5 linked regions of the Homo sapiens genome follow. Changing the gene in region 1 together with any one later gene gives a genetic interaction. Each region holds a gene or a part of one and is shown in the gene's direction. Other genes may lie near its edges. The genes, in order: ARNT, EGFR, FASN, PTP4A3 and HAPSTR1.

Region 1 (3,524 bases):
AGTATTGGCTGTGTCACAGAATGTGGTTTTTATGTGAACAAATTTATACTGAACATATGTATTCTAAGCATTTGTTGCAAAGAAACTTAGACATTGAATGCAGTTAATTTGAGAAAGATTTCTAAAGTAGGAACAAGACTTTGAGAGAAAAGGGGAAAATGCCTTTATTGTAATAACTTATCAAGAGGATATTCTCTGCAAAGACTTTAAATCAAGCTTTGAGCAGATTAGCTTTACCAGAACTTGAGGTCAAACAAGGAATGTGAGAAAGGTGATTGGGTTGCAGGATCAAAGTTTTAAGTTGGCTTGTCAGAGTTTCCAAATCTTAGCAACTTTATTACTTCCCTGCTGCCTGGGTATTATTGGAAAGTAGGGGTTTTGGGGAGACAGAAACTAAGAGAAAAGAGAAGCAAGGTGATGTGTTTTGGAAAAAGGTTAAACTTTGGATGTGGAGAAACCTGGATGTGATTCCTGTCATTGTTACTTATTAGTGGCATCACCTAGGGTAAGTTGCTTGACCTTTATAAAGCTCAGTTTTCTCATCTGTAATTCAGAGTTAGTACATCCTGTATAGGGTTTTTGTGAGGATTAGATTTAATGTAAGGAAAGCATCCAGCCCAGTGCCTGGCATATGGCAGGTAACCCAATAAAAGTAATTAATGTAATTTAAAAAAATTTAACTGAAGTAGTAATGACATTTGAACTACTTAGTCTATATACTATATAAGCCACACAGTTAAAGTATGTGATCTTTCATACCTCTATGTAGCATCAAGGAATACTATTTTTCTGGATAAAAAGAGTATAACTATGCAAAAAACAGGGGAGAAATGCAGTCTTCTTCCCTTTCTGTGTAAAACATTGGTTTTTCTCTTTTCCAAGGGACATGAATAACTATTGATGGTTGGTATAACTTCATTTTGGGTTGCTTGCTAACTTTAAAAGTTACAGATTAGGCAAAGCATAAATTTTCTGCCTATAACATGGTCATAGAATGGATGTCTTCATATGTGCCATATTTGGCCAGCATAGTTTTTTAGAGTACTCTGGGTAGGACTTGTATTTTCCAGTTTACTATAATTAACATGGGTAAAATGTAGGAATTAATATATATGTAAATACTTAAAACAATGACTGGCATATATGGTAAGTTTTATATACTTGTTTATTCTTATTTATCATTCTCTATTGCTTTATGCTTAGCCTCTTCATAACTAGATGTATTTTGTTTTGTTTTGCTTTTTGGTTTTTTTTTTGAGAGGGAGTCTCACTCTGTCTGTCGCCCAGGCTGGAGTGCAGTAGTGCGATCTCGGCTCACTGCATCCTCCGCCTCCTGGGTTCAAGTGATTCTCTCACCTCAGCCTCCCAAGTAGCTGGGATTACAGGTGCATGCCACCATGCCTGGCTAATTTTTGTATTTTTAGTAGAGATGGGGTTTCACTGTGTCGGCCAGGCTGGTCCTCAAGTGATCCGCCCACCTTGGCTTCCCAAAGTGTTGGGATTACAGGCGTCAGCCACGGTGCCTGGCCCATAAATAGGTCTATTTTGAATCTTTACTTGTCTGAGTTTTGAAGGCATTTGAGTTGGAGGTCCCCGTTAAACCTTTTAACGTCACGTTTCTGAAGGTGTTTCCCTCCCAGATGATGACCCAGAGGCTGGCCAGGGAAGCAAGTTTTGCCTAGTGGCCATTGGCAGATTGCAGGCAAGTATGAATTTTCCACATCTATATTCCCGTTCAATTAGAGCAGATCTTCAGGACTCATTCCTGTTAATTTTCTTTTACTTTCTGAATACAAATGAAGAATTCCATAAAACTCTCAAAATTTGAAGGAATATGGCATTTATAGTGACCATTGCTATTCTTGGATTTAAGTAAAGTTGAAAAGTATGAGAGGAGGGAGATCTTTTTCCCCTTGTCTTAATTTTAGCTTTACTATGCTTAATTTTCTATTTCCAGTTAATTTCCTTTGCCCCTATACAAAAGAAGAAAGATCCTTTTCATTGTATCATTACCTGACTAACAATAGAAAAGTGGAATTATTTTGATTTTTTCATAAGTATAGATAAGTTTCTTGGTTACTTGTACCATATCAACCTGAGTAATGAGTTCAGCATAGCCAGTATGTGGATTTTAGATTGAATAAACTTTATTCTTACTTTACTAACTTGGTAAAGTGTAAATGTATGGGAGCAGAGCTAGACCTTATGCCTTGTCTGATTGTGATTGTCATTTTTTTTTCCTTTTTGGATAAAATGTGAAAGTTTAGAAAGTCCTAAAACTGGGAATCTTATGTCTATGCAAAAGACCATGAGGAGATAGGAAATACATCTGTAAATAATGGTATCATTTTACCTCATTTTTATCTCTTCACTCTCAGGTAACTAGTTCTCCCAACTGTACAGACATGAGTAATGTTTGTCAACCAACAGAGTTCATCTCCCGACACAACATTGAGGGTATCTTCACTTTTGTGGATCACCGCTGTGTGGCTACTGTTGGCTACCAGCCACAGGTGAGGAGCTGGAGCTCCATTAGGCCTCCATTTTCCTTTGGCTATGTTGACATTATGTAATCATGTAGTTCCTAAGACAGCCAAAACATATCAACCTCAGTTAAGAAAAAGAGATCATCATATTCTGTTAGTACCTAACATTATTTTCAGCTTCCTATTAGGACTGTCATCTCATGTAGAGAAATATGGCTTGTCAAACCAGGTGGGAGCAGCAGGTACAAATATGTATTTATTTTTTGTTGTTGATATTAATACAGATGATTCAAAGGTACTCATATTAATTAGTTATACCAGTATAGCTACATTTAGATAATTCATGTAATTACCTAAATGAATAATGGCCCATAAAACATGCAGATTTAGCACCAGTTATTATAATTTACTCATGCAACAGACCAGTTAGCCATCTCTGAATTGACGCATCATATAAACTTTTAAAACTGTTGTGGGTCGGAAGGACTTCTGGCTGTGGCTATGTGAAAGAGGTTGGTGAAAAAGAGGTCTTGAAAACAAAGAACAAAGAGAATTTACACTACCTGATTCAACACTAACTATAAAGCTATTACCAAGACACTGTGGTGTTGGTGTAAGGATAGATATATAGATCAATAGACCAGAATAAGGTCTATTCTTATACTTGTCAACTAATTTTCAGCAAAGGTGACAAGACAATTCAATGGATAAAATAAATATTTCTAACAAATGGAACAATTGGATATCTGTATGCAAAAAAAAAAAAAAACAAAAAAAAAACCACACCCAAAAATGAAAACACATAGATCTTACCTCATACAATTTACAAAAATCAGCTTAGAGGCCTAAATGTGTAAGAGCTAAAGTTACAAATAAACTCCTAGGAGAAAATCTTTGTGATTTTGAGTTAGGCAAAAGATTTCTTACACTAAAAGCATGATTCACAGAAGAAAAAAAATTATAAATTGGATTTAATTGTAATTAAAATTTGCCCTCTTTAAAGGATATTATTAAGAAAATGAAAAGACCAGACATAAA
Region 2 (3,524 bases), on another chromosome or scaffold:
AGTTATATATATGTTAGTGTAATATCTAATATATAGTTTATTGGCTATCTAATATAATATAAACAGATTATCAATATTATAAGCTATTAGAAAAATGCAAGTTAAGGCAGATGATATACCTCTTTACACACCAACTACACACACCAACTACACACACACATACACACAGACACACACGACACACACCATACACATGTACACACACACCACATATACACAAACGTACACACACACCACACACACATACACACCACACACACACCACACATACATACACATCCACACACCACACATGTACACACGCCACACACACACATACACACCACATACACATATGTATGCACACATACACACCAACACCACACAGACACCACACATGCATAAACATATAGACATATACACACCACACACCATATGTACACATGTACACACACACCACATATACACACAACACACACAAATACACACACCACACACACACCACAAAAACCCCACACACACACAAACATATACACCCCACACATACGCATATATACACACACACATACACACCACACACATACACACCACACACACACCACACATACACACACGTACACACACCACACACACACCACAGACACACACCACACATACATACACATACACACACCACACACACGTACACACACCACACACACCACAGACACACATAGACACACCACATACACACCCACACCACACACACACAACTCATACCACACATACATACACAATAGACACATACACACCACACACACCATACATACACACGTATACACACACCACATATACACACACGTACACACACACCACACACACCCACATGCACACACCACACACACATACAAATATACACCACACACACATACACCACACACACGGTGCACATACACACACATATACACACACCAGACACACATACCACATACACATCACACATATATGTATACATGCATACACATACACACACACATACACACACTCTCCTCAAGGCAGTTTATCCTCTGAGAACTTTAAATTTACAAAAGACACATATGTCCATTACTTTGAGAAGGACAGGAAAGAACCCACTTTCTTTTGCAGCAACAGCAAGAGGGCCCTCCCGAGGCTCCTGCTCCCTGTCATAAGTCTCCTTGTTGAGGACATTCACAGGGTTCAGAACCCAGGGATCCTGCATGGGATGGTGCTTTGCTGATTACTTCACCTCTGATTTCTTTCCACTTTCAGAATACATAAACCAGTCCGTTCCCAAAAGGCCCGCTGGCTCTGTGCAGAATCCTGTCTATCACAATCAGCCTCTGAACCCCGCGCCCAGCAGAGACCCACACTACCAGGACCCCCACAGCACTGCAGTGGGCAACCCCGAGTATCTCAACACTGTCCAGCCCACCTGTGTCAACAGCACATTCGACAGCCCTGCCCACTGGGCCCAGAAAGGCAGCCACCAAATTAGCCTGGACAACCCTGACTACCAGCAGGACTTCTTTCCCAAGGAAGCCAAGCCAAATGGCATCTTTAAGGGCTCCACAGCTGAAAATGCAGAATACCTAAGGGTCGCGCCACAAAGCAGTGAATTTATTGGAGCATGACCACGGAGGATAGTATGAGCCCTAAAAATCCAGACTCTTTCGATACCCAGGACCAAGCCACAGCAGGTCCTCCATCCCAACAGCCATGCCCGCATTAGCTCTTAGACCCACAGACTGGTTTTGCAACGTTTACACCGACTAGCCAGGAAGTACTTCCACCTCGGGCACATTTTGGGAAGTTGCATTCCTTTGTCTTCAAACTGTGAAGCATTTACAGAAACGCATCCAGCAAGAATATTGTCCCTTTGAGCAGAAATTTATCTTTCAAAGAGGTATATTTGAAAAAAAAAAAAAGTATATGTGAGGATTTTTATTGATTGGGGATCTTGGAGTTTTTCATTGTCGCTATTGATTTTTACTTCAATGGGCTCTTCCAACAAGGAAGAAGCTTGCTGGTAGCACTTGCTACCCTGAGTTCATCCAGGCCCAACTGTGAGCAAGGAGCACAAGCCACAAGTCTTCCAGAGGATGCTTGATTCCAGTGGTTCTGCTTCAAGGCTTCCACTGCAAAACACTAAAGATCCAAGAAGGCCTTCATGGCCCCAGCAGGCCGGATCGGTACTGTATCAAGTCATGGCAGGTACAGTAGGATAAGCCACTCTGTCCCTTCCTGGGCAAAGAAGAAACGGAGGGGATGGAATTCTTCCTTAGACTTACTTTTGTAAAAATGTCCCCACGGTACTTACTCCCCACTGATGGACCAGTGGTTTCCAGTCATGAGCGTTAGACTGACTTGTTTGTCTTCCATTCCATTGTTTTGAAACTCAGTATGCTGCCCCTGTCTTGCTGTCATGAAATCAGCAAGAGAGGATGACACATCAAATAATAACTCGGATTCCAGCCCACATTGGATTCATCAGCATTTGGACCAATAGCCCACAGCTGAGAATGTGGAATACCTAAGGATAGCACCGCTTTTGTTCTCGCAAAAACGTATCTCCTAATTTGAGGCTCAGATGAAATGCATCAGGTCCTTTGGGGCATAGATCAGAAGACTACAAAAATGAAGCTGCTCTGAAATCTCCTTTAGCCATCACCCCAACCCCCCAAAATTAGTTTGTGTTACTTATGGAAGATAGTTTTCTCCTTTTACTTCACTTCAAAAGCTTTTTACTCAAAGAGTATATGTTCCCTCCAGGTCAGCTGCCCCCAAACCCCCTCCTTACGCTTTGTCACACAAAAAGTGTCTCTGCCTTGAGTCATCTATTCAAGCACTTACAGCTCTGGCCACAACAGGGCATTTTACAGGTGCGAATGACAGTAGCATTATGAGTAGTGTGGAATTCAGGTAGTAAATATGAAACTAGGGTTTGAAATTGATAATGCTTTCACAACATTTGCAGATGTTTTAGAAGGAAAAAAGTTCCTTCCTAAAATAATTTCTCTACAATTGGAAGATTGGAAGATTCAGCTAGTTAGGAGCCCACCTTTTTTCCTAATCTGTGTGTGCCCTGTAACCTGACTGGTTAACAGCAGTCCTTTGTAAACAGTGTTTTAAACTCTCCTAGTCAATATCCACCCCATCCAATTTATCAAGGAAGAAATGGTTCAGAAAATATTTTCAGCCTACAGTTATGTTCAGTCACACACACATACAAAATGTTCCTTTTGCTTTTAAAGTAATTTTTGACTCCCAGATCAGTCAGAGCCCCTACAGCATTGTTAAGAAAGTATTTGATTTTTGTCTCAATGAAAATAAAACTATATTCATTTCCACTCTATTATGCTCTCAAATACCCCTAAGCATCTATACTAGCCTGGTATGGGTATGAAAGATACAAAGATAAATAAAACATAGTCCCTGATTCTAAGAAATTCACAATTTAGCAAAGGAAATGGACTCATAGATGCTAACCTTAAAACAACGTGACAAATGCCAGACAGGACCCATCAGCCAGGCACTGTGAGAGCACA
Region 3 (3,423 bases), on another chromosome or scaffold:
GCTGTCCGTGCGCGAGGTGCGGCAACTCACGCTCCGGAAACTGCAGGAGCTGTCCTCAAAGGCGGATGAGGCCAGCGGTGCGTGTGGGTGGCCAGGCGGGAGTGGGGTCCCCGGGCCTCCCCAGCCCTTCCTCCTTGTTGTCTGGACCGTGTCCCGGCAGGCATACCGCCCTTCGTCACGGGTGCCATTCTGAGCGTTCCCACCCCGACTCCCACCTGACGTAGCACCGTGGGGACCTGCGTGCGTGTCTGTGTGTCCTTGCGTGGGTGCCAGGGCTCTGCACCCAGACCAGCCTGGCATCTGCCCCTGTCTTCACAGAGCTGGCATGCCCCACGCCCAAGGAGGATGGTCTGGCCCAGCAGCAGACTCAGCTGAACCTGCGCTCCCTGCTGGTGAACCCGGAGGGCCCCACCCTGATGCGGCTCAACTCCGTGCAGAGCTCGGAGCGGCCCCTGTTCCTGGTGCACCCAATCGAGGGCTCCACCACCGTGTTCCACAGCCTGGCCTCCCGGCTCAGCATCCCCACCTATGGCCTGCAGTGCACCCGAGGTACTCCCGGGCCCTCCTCTGGAAGCGGTGGTCAGTGCTGGCCATCACGGGGCCCGTGGCTGCCGCCTGCACATGCTGAGTGCCCGGCACTGCCATTGCAGCTGCGCCCCTTGACAGCATCCACAGCCTGGCTGCCTACTACATCGACTGCATCAGGCAGGTGCAGCCCGAGGGCCCCTACCGCGTGGCCGGCTACTCCTACGGGGCCTGCGTGGCCTTTGAAATGTGCTCCCAGCTGCAGGCCCAGCAGAGCCCAGCCCCCACCCACAACAGCCTCTTCCTGTTCGACGGCTCGCCCACCTACGTACTGGCCTACACCCAGGTGAGAGCCAGGCTGGTCCTAGAGGCCTACGGCAAACGTCTGGGCTCCCCACCTGTGCCCTGGCTTTGGGGGACCGTCGCTTAGGAGGCCCCGCCCCTTCCATCTGCTCAGCAGTCCCTCCTTCCTCTCAGAGCTACCGGGCAAAGCTGACCCCAGGCTGTGAGGCTGAGGCTGAGACGGAGGCCATATGCTTCTTCGTGCAGCAGTTCACGGACATGGAGCACAACAGGGTGGGTCCTGGACACCCCTGAGGCCGCAGGACCCAGAGTACTGGGCAGGAACGGAAGGGGGAAGGGAAGGATGGGATGGGACGCGAAGAGCGTTAAAGGCCCCCCAACTTCACCCCTTTAATAGCCGATCCCGGCCGGATGCGGTTGCTCATGCCTGTAATCCCGGCACTTTGGGAGGCTAAGGCGGGCAGATTACCTGAGGTCGGGAGTTCGAGACCAGCCTGACCAACGTGGAGAAACCCCTTCTCTACTAAAAATACAAAAATTAGCCAGGCATGGTGGCACTCACCTATAGTCCCACCTACTCGGGAGGAGAATCGCTTGAACCGGGTAGGTGGAGGTTGCGGAGGGAGGAGAATCGCTTGAACCGGGTAGGTGGAGGTTGCGGTGAGCTGAGATCGCCCCACTCCATCTAGCCTGGGTAACAAAAATGAAACTCGTCTCAAAAAAAAAAAGCCCACCCGCAGTGTAGCACAGGGCAGGCCGGTGCTGTGGGTGCTGCCAGCACCTGCTCAGAGCCCGACCCCACAGGTGCTGGAGGCGCTGCTGCCGCTGAAGGGCCTAGAGGAGCGTGTGGCAGCCGCCGTGGACCTGATCATCAAGAGCCACCAGGGCCTGGACCGCCAGGAGCTGAGCTTTGCGGCCCGGTCCTTCTACTACAAGCTGCGTGCCGCTGAGCAGTACACACCCAAGGCCAAGTACCATGGCAACGTGATGCTACTGCGCGCCAAGACGGGTGGCGCCTACGGCGAGGACCTGGGCGCGGACTACAACCTCTCCCAGGTGCGCAAGGGGCCTGACGGGAACGGGGACAGGGACAGGAGTGGGGTGGGACGGCAGCTGATCGCATCCCCTGCAGGTATGCGACGGGAAAGTATCCGTCCACGTCATCGAGGGTGACCACCGCACGCTGCTGGAGGGCAGCGGCCTGGAGTCCATCATCAGCATCATCCACAGCTCCCTGGCTGAGCCACGCGTGAGCGTGCGGGAGGGCTAGGCCCGTGCCCCCGCCTGCCACCGGAGGTCACTCCACCATCCCCACCCCACCCCACCCCACCCCCGCCATGCAACGGGATTGAAGGGTCCTGCCGGTGGGACCCTGTCCGGCCCAGTGCCACTGCCCCCCGAGGCTGCTAGATGTAGGTGTTAGGCATGTCCCACCCACCCGCCGCCTCCCACGGCACCTCGGGGACACCAGAGCTGCCGACTTGGAGACTCCTGGTCTGTGAAGAGCCGGTGGTGCCCGTGCCCGCAGGAACTGGGCTGGGCCTCGTGCGCCCGTGGGGTCTGCGCTTGGTCTTTCTGTGCTTGGATTTGCATATTTATTGCATTGCTGGTAGAGACCCCCAGGCCTGTCCACCCTGCCAAGACTCCTCAGGCAGCGTGTGGGTCCCGCACTCTGCCCCCATTTCCCCGATGTCCCCTGCGGGCGCGGGCAGCCACCCAAGCCTGCTGGCTGCGGCCCCCTCTCGGCCAGGCATTGGCTCAGCCCGCTGAGTGGGGGGTCGTGGGCCAGTCCCCGAGGAGCTGGGCCCCTGCACAGGCACACAGGGCCCGGCCACACCCAGCGGCCCCCCGCACAGCCACCCGTGGGGTGCTGCCCTTATGCCCGGCGCCGGGCACCAACTCCATGTTTGGTGTTTGTCTGTGTTTGTTTTTCAAGAAATGATTCAAATTGCTGCTTGGATTTTGAAATTTACTGTAACTGTCAGTGTACACGTCTGGACCCCGTTTCATTTTTACACCAATTTGGTAAAAATGCTGCTCTCAGCCTCCCACAATTAAACCGCATGTGATCTCCACCACCGTCCTTTCTTCCCTCCTCCCTGACCTGGCAGCTGCAAGCTCTCCAGCTCCACCCCACCCAGTCACGGGGCCGTGAAGGGGATGCCCTCTGTCCTCTGGTCCCCAGTTCCCACACACCCCTAGGCCATGTCCCAGAGCCGGGGCTGGGCCGGGGAGTGAGGAAGGAGCCCGCGTGGCAGCCCCGGGCTTCCCGGGAAAGCGCTGGGACTGGCGGGGGGGGGGGTACCGAGGCTCTGGCCAAGAAACACCACCAGTGAGAAACGTGTAGGAGGTACAGACACTGGGAAGTTGGCTTCAGCTGAGGAGAGGCCCCTCGTGGAGAATAGTATTTGCTTGAAGTCAGTGGATTGCAGGCATTCGCCCTGCCAAAGATGCCGTCACAGCCTCACCAAGACGGTGTCAATAGCGCCACTGGCTGGCCAGGTTGACCCAGAAGACTTGGGTTTAGGCAAAGGAGTGGAGGCTGGGAGGGAGCAAGGGACAGGGAGCCCTGGGCACCTGGACCCCCGGCATCGA
Region 4 (3,500 bases), on another chromosome or scaffold:
ACGGGTGCTTCCTTCCACCCAGGAGCCTGAGCAGAGGGTGGAGGGTCCTGGCAGCTACCTACGGCAGCTGAGAGCTGCGCTCTTTAGCCGAGCGGGATCAGGGCTACGTGGACACAGCCCGTGCCAGTGTGGGTGGGGCACGAGCTGTGGGTTCCGATGGCCCAGTAGGCGTTCACCTGGCAGAGAGTGTGCGCGTGTCTCCCCTCCTTGGGGCGCCTCAGGTCAGGACCCTGAGAACCTCACTTATCCTTTGAGCTGCGCCAAGGCTGTTGTACAAAAGACAGTTCAGAAAATAAGGACAGGCTGTTCCTCCCAGCCAAGGGTGTGGCCCTAAGGACCCCTAGGTGGGGCATCGCTTCCCGCCAGGCACGTGCCACTCAGTCTTGGGCTGCTTTAGTGGCAGCCTCCTGGTTTGGAAGCGGAACTGAGGGTCAGGGATGACCACATGGCTCAGGGCTCAGCTGGGGTCCTGAGAGTGGGCCCTCAGGTTTACCTTCCTCCTGGAGGGGAACTGGGGGCCATTGCCCAGTGCACCCCCACTTCCCCTTAGGTGCGTGGGCCACCCCTCCCTCCTGCAGCCCCCGTTCATCTACCCAGGATAGGTGCATGGGCCACCCCTCCCTCCTGCAGCCCCCGTTCATCTACCTGGGGAAGGTGCGTGGGCCACCCCTCCCTCCTGCAGCCCCCGTTCATCTACCCGGGGTAGGTGCGTGGGCCACCCCTCCCTCCTGCAGCCCCCGTTCATCTACCCAGTGGGGATGTCCCCTGGCTCCTCTCCTGGCATCTTCCCGGGATGTAGGGGTGCTCCCATGCCCCCCGGCTCCTCTCCTGGTGTCTTCCCCAGATGTAGGGGTGCCCTCATGTCAGGGCTTATGCTTCTAGAAGGAGTGGAAATGCAGCACAGTCATTGCTGTTGCCTGCCAAGGGCCACCCTGGCTGGGGACAGATGGGGCTGCCTCCCCTCTCCCACCCTGTCCTGGCCACCTGCCCCCGCCAACCCTGCCACTGGCTCAGAGGAAGCAGGCCTAACCTGATGTGTAACCCCCACCCCTGCCGTGACTGTAACCCCGTGCCATGTGAAGGTGGGGCTCCTTGGCAGTGCCTGGTGATTGCGGTACAGCCAGAACCGGCCCCATTATCTGGGCTGTGGGTGCCATTGGTCAGGACCGTGATGGACTCATACGTAAAACTTGATGCATTTTAACTCCCTTCATCCTAGAGGATTGAGACCTCTGGCGGGTAAGTGTTCATATTACCGTCCTGCCCTAGAGCCAGGGAAGGACCCTAGGGGAGAAGTGACGTGCCAGGGTCACTGCTGGGAGGAGAGCAGGAATTTGAACGCTGGCCATGCCTCCTTTTTGGGGAAAGGTCAGTAAATGGGCAGGGGAGGGTGCTGGTCATTTGGGTGATGGTGCCAGTGGGGTGAGCAGCTCCAGGTCATCAGGTGGTATGGAATCTGGCCCCGGGCAGCCCGTCCAGCATTCCTCTCTCACCGAGCCCACAGCCCTGGAGCACCTACTGTGTGCCTGCTCTGGCCCACTGGGAACAGGACAGTCCCGAGCCCTGCCCCGAGGAGCTGGCGCCAAGTGGAGCAGCTGCACCACAGGCACACGGGGGACAAAGGGCACCGCTGATGATTTGGCCAGGAAGAGATGAGGTGGGGATGGGGGCTACAGGGTGGGGAGACGGTGGCCTCGGGAAGGGCTAGCTTGGCCACGCCAGCTTGGTCATGTCACCTTCTGAGTCTCAGTGTTCCCTTCTCACGTGGGACAAGACCACGCATAACCCGAGGGGCTGCATGTGTGGAGCCGACAAGCTGACGTGCGGGTCCTGAGTGCACTGAGCCCGCTGGGGTTCCAGACACAGTGGATGAACGATCCAGGGAAGGAAACAGCCTGGGCTGTGCTCTCTGGGACCTGCCCTTGAGCCAGGTACTCCTGTGGGAGGGTAGCCGGGCTGGCTGGGGGCCTGGAGCCCACAGCCTCTCCTCCCTTGCTGTTTTCCCGGCCAGGGAGGAAGCCAGGCTGGAAGACCCCAGAGGGCTAGGGGGATGAACACAGGTTGATCTGTGTTGAATTTGGCTCTAGCCACCTCCTCAGGGCCAGAGCGGCTCCTGGAGCCGGAGTGAGAGCTGTGTTACACGCAGGGAAGCCGGGGCTCGGGGAAGGTGGCTGCCAGGGTGTGCAGGGCTGTGCCAACCTCATCCTGGTGGGTCCCTGTGACAACAGGACAGGCTGCCTGCCCATTGTACAATGAGAGGCTGATGCTCTGTCACTTCATGAGGTCACACAGGCTCCAGGCAGTGGGGGGCTCTCTGAAGGAGGTCCCAGTGACCTGAATGGAGCCCCCGGGTGGGCTGAAACTTCTGCCTGTAAGGCCTGTCCTGGGTTGGGGTTGGGTGGGAGAGGGCAGGAGTCCTGCTGGGAAGGGCCTCTGCCATGCCCAGCTCCTACCACAAGTACAGAACAATGACAACTCCGCCACCTGGCTGCCCCACGCTGGGCACATGCTCCCCGCTGGCCTCAGTTGGGAGTCCAGTGAGTCAGGAGGTGAAGGTGGGGTGCACGTCCCCTGCAGACCCTCACAAGGCAGGTGGCGGGGCGGGTATTGGTCATGAGAACCCTGCCTTGGGGCCTGAGTGCCTCGGTGGCTGTGGAGCCTGGTTTCGACCTCTTTGGGACCAGTGTTCTTGTCCATAAAAGGCAGTGATCTTTCTGGATAGTTCAGAGAGATTCTGTTATCTTTGCCCATCAGAGCTGGAAGGGAGTTGAACAAAATGTTTTGCAGAAATTGGACCTGAGTTGGGCATTGCTCCTCCTGCTGCCCCTGGTTCTGAGGGCTTGGCACCACTAGCCCGCTCTCTGTCCAGGGTCGGCCCGGCTCCTGCCTTTATCATGTGTGAGCCTCGCTGTGTGTGGCTCAGTCCTGGACGGGCCGAGACCTGGATGCAGGACCCTGGACAGTCAGCGCAGGCGGAGCAGGGAGGGAGGCGTCTGCCTGAGGCCTGCTTGGAGGTGCCCAGGCTGGAGCCCTTGGCCCTGGAAGATGTGGTCAGGGCCCAGTGGTGTTGGGATGGCCAAGAAGAGGGCCCCTGTGCCTTCTGCCCAGGGCTTGGCCTAGCCAGTGCTCAGGGTTTATTTGCTGGATGAGGGGTGGAGTGGGCCAGTGGGGCCCAGGTCTCCTGCTAGGTGACCCTCAGAGGTGGGCATAACATCCCTTGGAGTCTCTGCTCTGCACTTGCCAATAAGAGGCTGGACCATTTGAGTGGTTATAAGTTGGGAAGCACTCCCTGATTGCTTGGTTCTGCTTGAGGCACAGCCTCCAACTCCCAGAGATTCCAGCACCCCTGCAGGAGCCAGCGTTGCTGATGTGGGCAGACGGGCGTCTGGGAACACCCCAGACTCAGCATACTAGGGTTCAAGTCCCTGACTCCCATCCTGGGGCATGGAGTGGCAGGAACCAGGGAATGTTCTAGAGTGAGGTGGTGAGGTGGAGCAGGG
Region 5 (3,524 bases), on another chromosome or scaffold:
AATCTGTTCCACCTGTGATTTATTGTTTTCCTGAACTTTGGGAGTTTTAAGCAATGATACAGTTGAAGGGACTGTTTATAATTTTCACATGTTTAAGTTGTGAGGCTTTAAAACTTAAATATAAGGCTTTGTCTAGGAAGAAAATGATCTTTACCTTCAATAAATTTATAATGTAGCACTAATCCAGTATAGATTGGAGACTGAATGCATTCTTACTCTTAGGGTTCATACCTCTAATTCATGTGGTTAAGACAGTGTTGTGGTGAAGTAATAGGGCCCCTTGAAAGAATCTACAGAAACATAAATTATACTGAGTTGTGCTGTACTGGTTTGTGAGAACATCAGTGTATTAAGGAGAATGGTAGTTTAATTTGAATATTTAAAGAAAGTAATTTGAATGGTTCTAGTACTAGGGCCATTATTAACTAGTAACATAGATTAGTGACTTCAACTGGGTGTCCTTATTATCTGATTTGTCTGAAGTGAAAACTGTTAAGGTGCTCTTTTAAAATGTATTTGGAAACACCATAGTTAGGGTAAATACAATGTCACAATTCACTCTTGCATATTATTTGCTTAGCCAAATTTATGAATTCTAAGTTAGGCCAAATTGAAGGTTTTGGAGTTTTACATTGTGGGTGAGTCTAAATTCATGCGTTTGGCAAGCACAAGGACATGGGAAAAGAATCTGGTATTTTGAGGCAGGCTTGAGTTTATAATGAAAGCAAACTCAGTTCCTCTTCATGTCCTATGTATTTAAGAGAGGACAGTTTTCCCTCAGTTTTTTTCCCCTTCCTTACCCCTACCCCCATCAAATACAGCCCAACCAAATAACTGTGTTCTTAATTTAAAGGAAAATGGCAGACTTGACACCTGCTGAATATTTCGTGTAGACAGAGTATGACAATGAATGAGATCCCCAGTCATTGCCCTTGTAAGCCTGGGAACCCAGTTTAGTGGGAGAGACTAATGTAAACAGCTTTAATCAAAAGTATATCAATTGGCCGGGTGCTGTGGCTCACACCTATAATGCCGGCACTTTGGGAGGCCAAGGTGGGTGGATCACTTGAGGTCAGGAGTTTGAGACCACCCTGGCCAACATGGTGAAACCCTCTCCCTATTTAAAGAAAAAAAAGTAAGGCATATCAATTTATGGTTATCAAATAGGTTTTTTTTTTTTTTTTTGAGACTGAGTGTCGCTCTATAGCCCAGGCTGGAGTGTAGTGCTCACTGCGACTTCCGCCTCCTGGGTTCAAATGATTCTCGTGCCTCAGTCTCCCGAGTAGCTGGGATTGTAGGCGCCTGCCACCACGCCCAGCTAATTTTTGTATTTGTAGTAGAGATGGGGTTTCATCATGTTGGCGAAGCTGGTCTTGAACACCTGACCTCAAGTGATCTGCCTTAGCCTCACTGCTTGCCCCTAAGTGGTGGGATTGCAGGTGTGAGCCACTGTGCTGGCCTCAAATAGTTTTTATCAAAGCTACTTCAATTAGTGGTTAGCAAGGCTTAAAGACTAATTCAGTGCTTTATTTTGACACTTGTTCGCAACATGTTGCTTTTTTTCCTGTGTCCTATGGGACCTAGTCATCTGTATGTTAGATTCACAGAGGAATTAAAGAGATAAACATGCATGTGCTAAATTGATTTCTGTCTTGCTTTGTTATCCTATAATAATGTTATAAAATAACATTATTATAAATTTCCCAAGAGTTGAATTAATACCAACAACTGGTAACTCGTTTTTATGTAAACAGCATACTTGAGACCAGAAATCTTCTGGATCACTTTGTGGATCTCTGCCTGCCATTCTCATTGGTCCTCTGTTCATCCCTTTTCTAGAGCTTCTCCTTACCTTGGCTTCTCTTCTGCCACATTGGCCTGCCTGACCTGTCCTCAGGCCCTGTCACTGCCCTAGATTACGTTTCCCATGTCTTCACTTCCAAATCTGGACCTCTCGTTTAGACCTTCTCTCCTGACTGCCAGATGGCATGTCCCACTGTCCTCCGGTGTACATCTCCAAATTGTCCCACAGGCATTTATCTCAGATGAAGTTTCAGGTTGGACTCATTCTTCTGCCCCAACAGCAGAATGACTCATTGAGCCATTGAGCCATTCAGCACATTCTCTATATGGCAGATTCGGTGCTGTCTCTGGAAATACATAAACATAGAGCGATTCCTTTTTCTGTTGAGGCAAAATATGGATTTGGTTAATTTCTATTCACGTCATGAATGTGGTATGTGGAAGGTCTTCTGAGAGCAGAAAGGGATGTTTCACAGCACAGCCCGGCTGTGTGGTGCTCAGGGCAGGCCCTCTGGAGGAGGTGAGCCTGGGCTCTTGGCCTAATGTTTCAGCTCTCACTTTCCAGTCCTGAGCTGTTGTTGCCAGTCCATCTTTCATGAGACCATTGGAGTGATCTTTCTGGTCTTGTCACTTCATGGTTTAAAGTTTCCCTGGGCCTACACAGTGAAGTCCAAATTCAGCATGGTATTACAAGACCCTTATGATCCAGTCTTAACCATTGGTTAGGTATCCTACCCATACTGTTTATCTCTTGAATACCTCTATGCTCTTTGACAAGTCCAGCCCCTACGTGTTCATACCTCACTTCTGTGACACAGCCTTGCTTCAGGGCTCCCAATCTCTGTAGCCTCCCTGAACTGTGCATTTGCTCTGCTGCTTGATTTGTTTCTGTGACTGTTCCATTCTCCTCGGGACACATAGCAGGGACCTTGTCTTGGTCCTTTTTTTTTTGGCTTTAACAGAACATAGCAAAGAACCTGACATAGGTGTAGTCTGAGTTTACCACTGGGGTTATCACAGAGGTCTGCTAAGTGAATACAACACAGTGGGGACCCAGAACCTCTAGAAAGGGTTGAGGATTACAATCCCCAGATAGCTACAATCAGGGAATAATGTAACCTGTTTGCCTAGGGTGCTACATGGTAATCTTGAATTAGAACAACTGAGACTTCCATGGGACCTTAGGGTGATAACCATTAAACCTACTCTTTCAGTGTTTACTTTGTAAAAGCATCACACTAAGGAGGTTGTCATTTAATCCTCACACCTACCCTGGGTTATTAACACTGTTGATGAAGAAAGCCTTACTTGGCTAAGATATGGAGCAGGTTAGTAAGTGGTAGAATAGATACTCCAGTCCTGTCTCCAAAATGCAAATTTTTTTTTAATTAAAAAAATTTCTAATTTTCAATATATTTATTTTTGATTTTTTATTTTCTGTAGAGTTGGAGTTTCGCCATGTTGTCCAGGCTGGTCTCGAACTCATGGGTGCAAGCCATACCCCAACCTCGACCTTCCGAAGTGTTGGGAATACTGGCATGAGCCATGATGCCTGGCCTCAAAATGCATACCCTTAACCACTATGCTCTCACATTTTTAGATGTGGGATTTCTGTCTACGACGTCGCCCCCACTAAGACCTAGGGCTTAGGTGTCGAGGTGGGAAAGATCTTGAGGCTTTTCTTCTCAAAATTAATCAGAAACGATGTGAATTTTATATCT

Evidence for each region.
Region 2: changes in ARNT (region 1) and EGFR together harm fitness more than expected from each alone (negative genetic interaction), as found in Homo sapiens cells (one large-scale study listed by BioGRID).
Region 3: changes in ARNT (region 1) and FASN together harm fitness less than expected from each alone (positive genetic interaction), as found in Homo sapiens cells (one large-scale study listed by BioGRID).
Region 4: changes in ARNT (region 1) and PTP4A3 together harm fitness less than expected from each alone (positive genetic interaction), as found in Homo sapiens cells (one study listed by BioGRID).
Region 5: changes in ARNT (region 1) and HAPSTR1 together harm fitness less than expected from each alone (positive genetic interaction), as found in Homo sapiens cells (one large-scale study listed by BioGRID).

What each region holds. Positions count from the first base shown.
Region 1 is NC_000001.11:150,828,082-150,831,605, reverse strand, and holds part of ARNT (aryl hydrocarbon receptor nuclear translocator), read left to right. Parts: intron 1-1,625; coding exon 1,626-1,702; intron 1,703-2,378; coding exon 2,379-2,513; intron 2,514-3,524. UniProt on the Homo sapiens protein: Required for activity of the AHR. Upon ligand binding, AHR translocates into the nucleus, where it heterodimerizes with ARNT and induces transcription by binding to xenobiotic response elements (XRE).
Region 2 is NC_000007.14:55,204,008-55,207,531, forward strand, and holds part of EGFR (epidermal growth factor receptor isoform a precursor), read left to right. Parts: intron 1-1,248; coding exon 1,249-1,610; 3' UTR 1,611-3,524. UniProt on the Homo sapiens protein: Receptor tyrosine kinase binding ligands of the EGF family and activating several signaling cascades to convert extracellular cues into appropriate cellular responses.
Region 3 is NC_000017.11:82,077,818-82,081,240, reverse strand, and holds the end of FASN (fatty acid synthase), read left to right. Parts: coding exon 1-77; intron 78-318; coding exon 319-549; intron 550-650; coding exon 651-871; intron 872-1,002; coding exon 1,003-1,101; intron 1,102-1,632; coding exon 1,633-1,884; intron 1,885-1,960; coding exon 1,961-2,098; 3' UTR 2,099-2,903; downstream 2,904-3,423. UniProt on the Homo sapiens protein: Fatty acid synthetase is a multifunctional enzyme that catalyzes the de novo biosynthesis of long-chain saturated fatty acids starting from acetyl-CoA and malonyl-CoA in the presence of NADPH.
Region 4 is NC_000008.11:141,395,021-141,398,520, forward strand, and holds part of PTP4A3 (protein tyrosine phosphatase type IVA 3), read left to right. Parts: intron 1-3,500. UniProt on the Homo sapiens protein: Protein tyrosine phosphatase which stimulates progression from G1 into S phase during mitosis. Enhances cell proliferation, cell motility and invasive activity, and promotes cancer metastasis.
Region 5 is NC_000016.10:9,105,125-9,108,648, forward strand, and holds part of HAPSTR1 (HUWE1-associated protein modifying stress responses 1), read left to right. Parts: exon of another isoform or gene 1-1,640; intron 1,641-3,246; coding exon of another isoform or gene 3,247-3,380; exon of another isoform or gene 3,381-3,524. UniProt on the Homo sapiens protein: Acts as a central player within a network of stress response pathways promoting cellular adaptability. The E3 ligase HUWE1 assists HAPSTR1 in controlling stress signaling and in turn, HUWE1 feeds back to promote the degradation of HAPSTR1.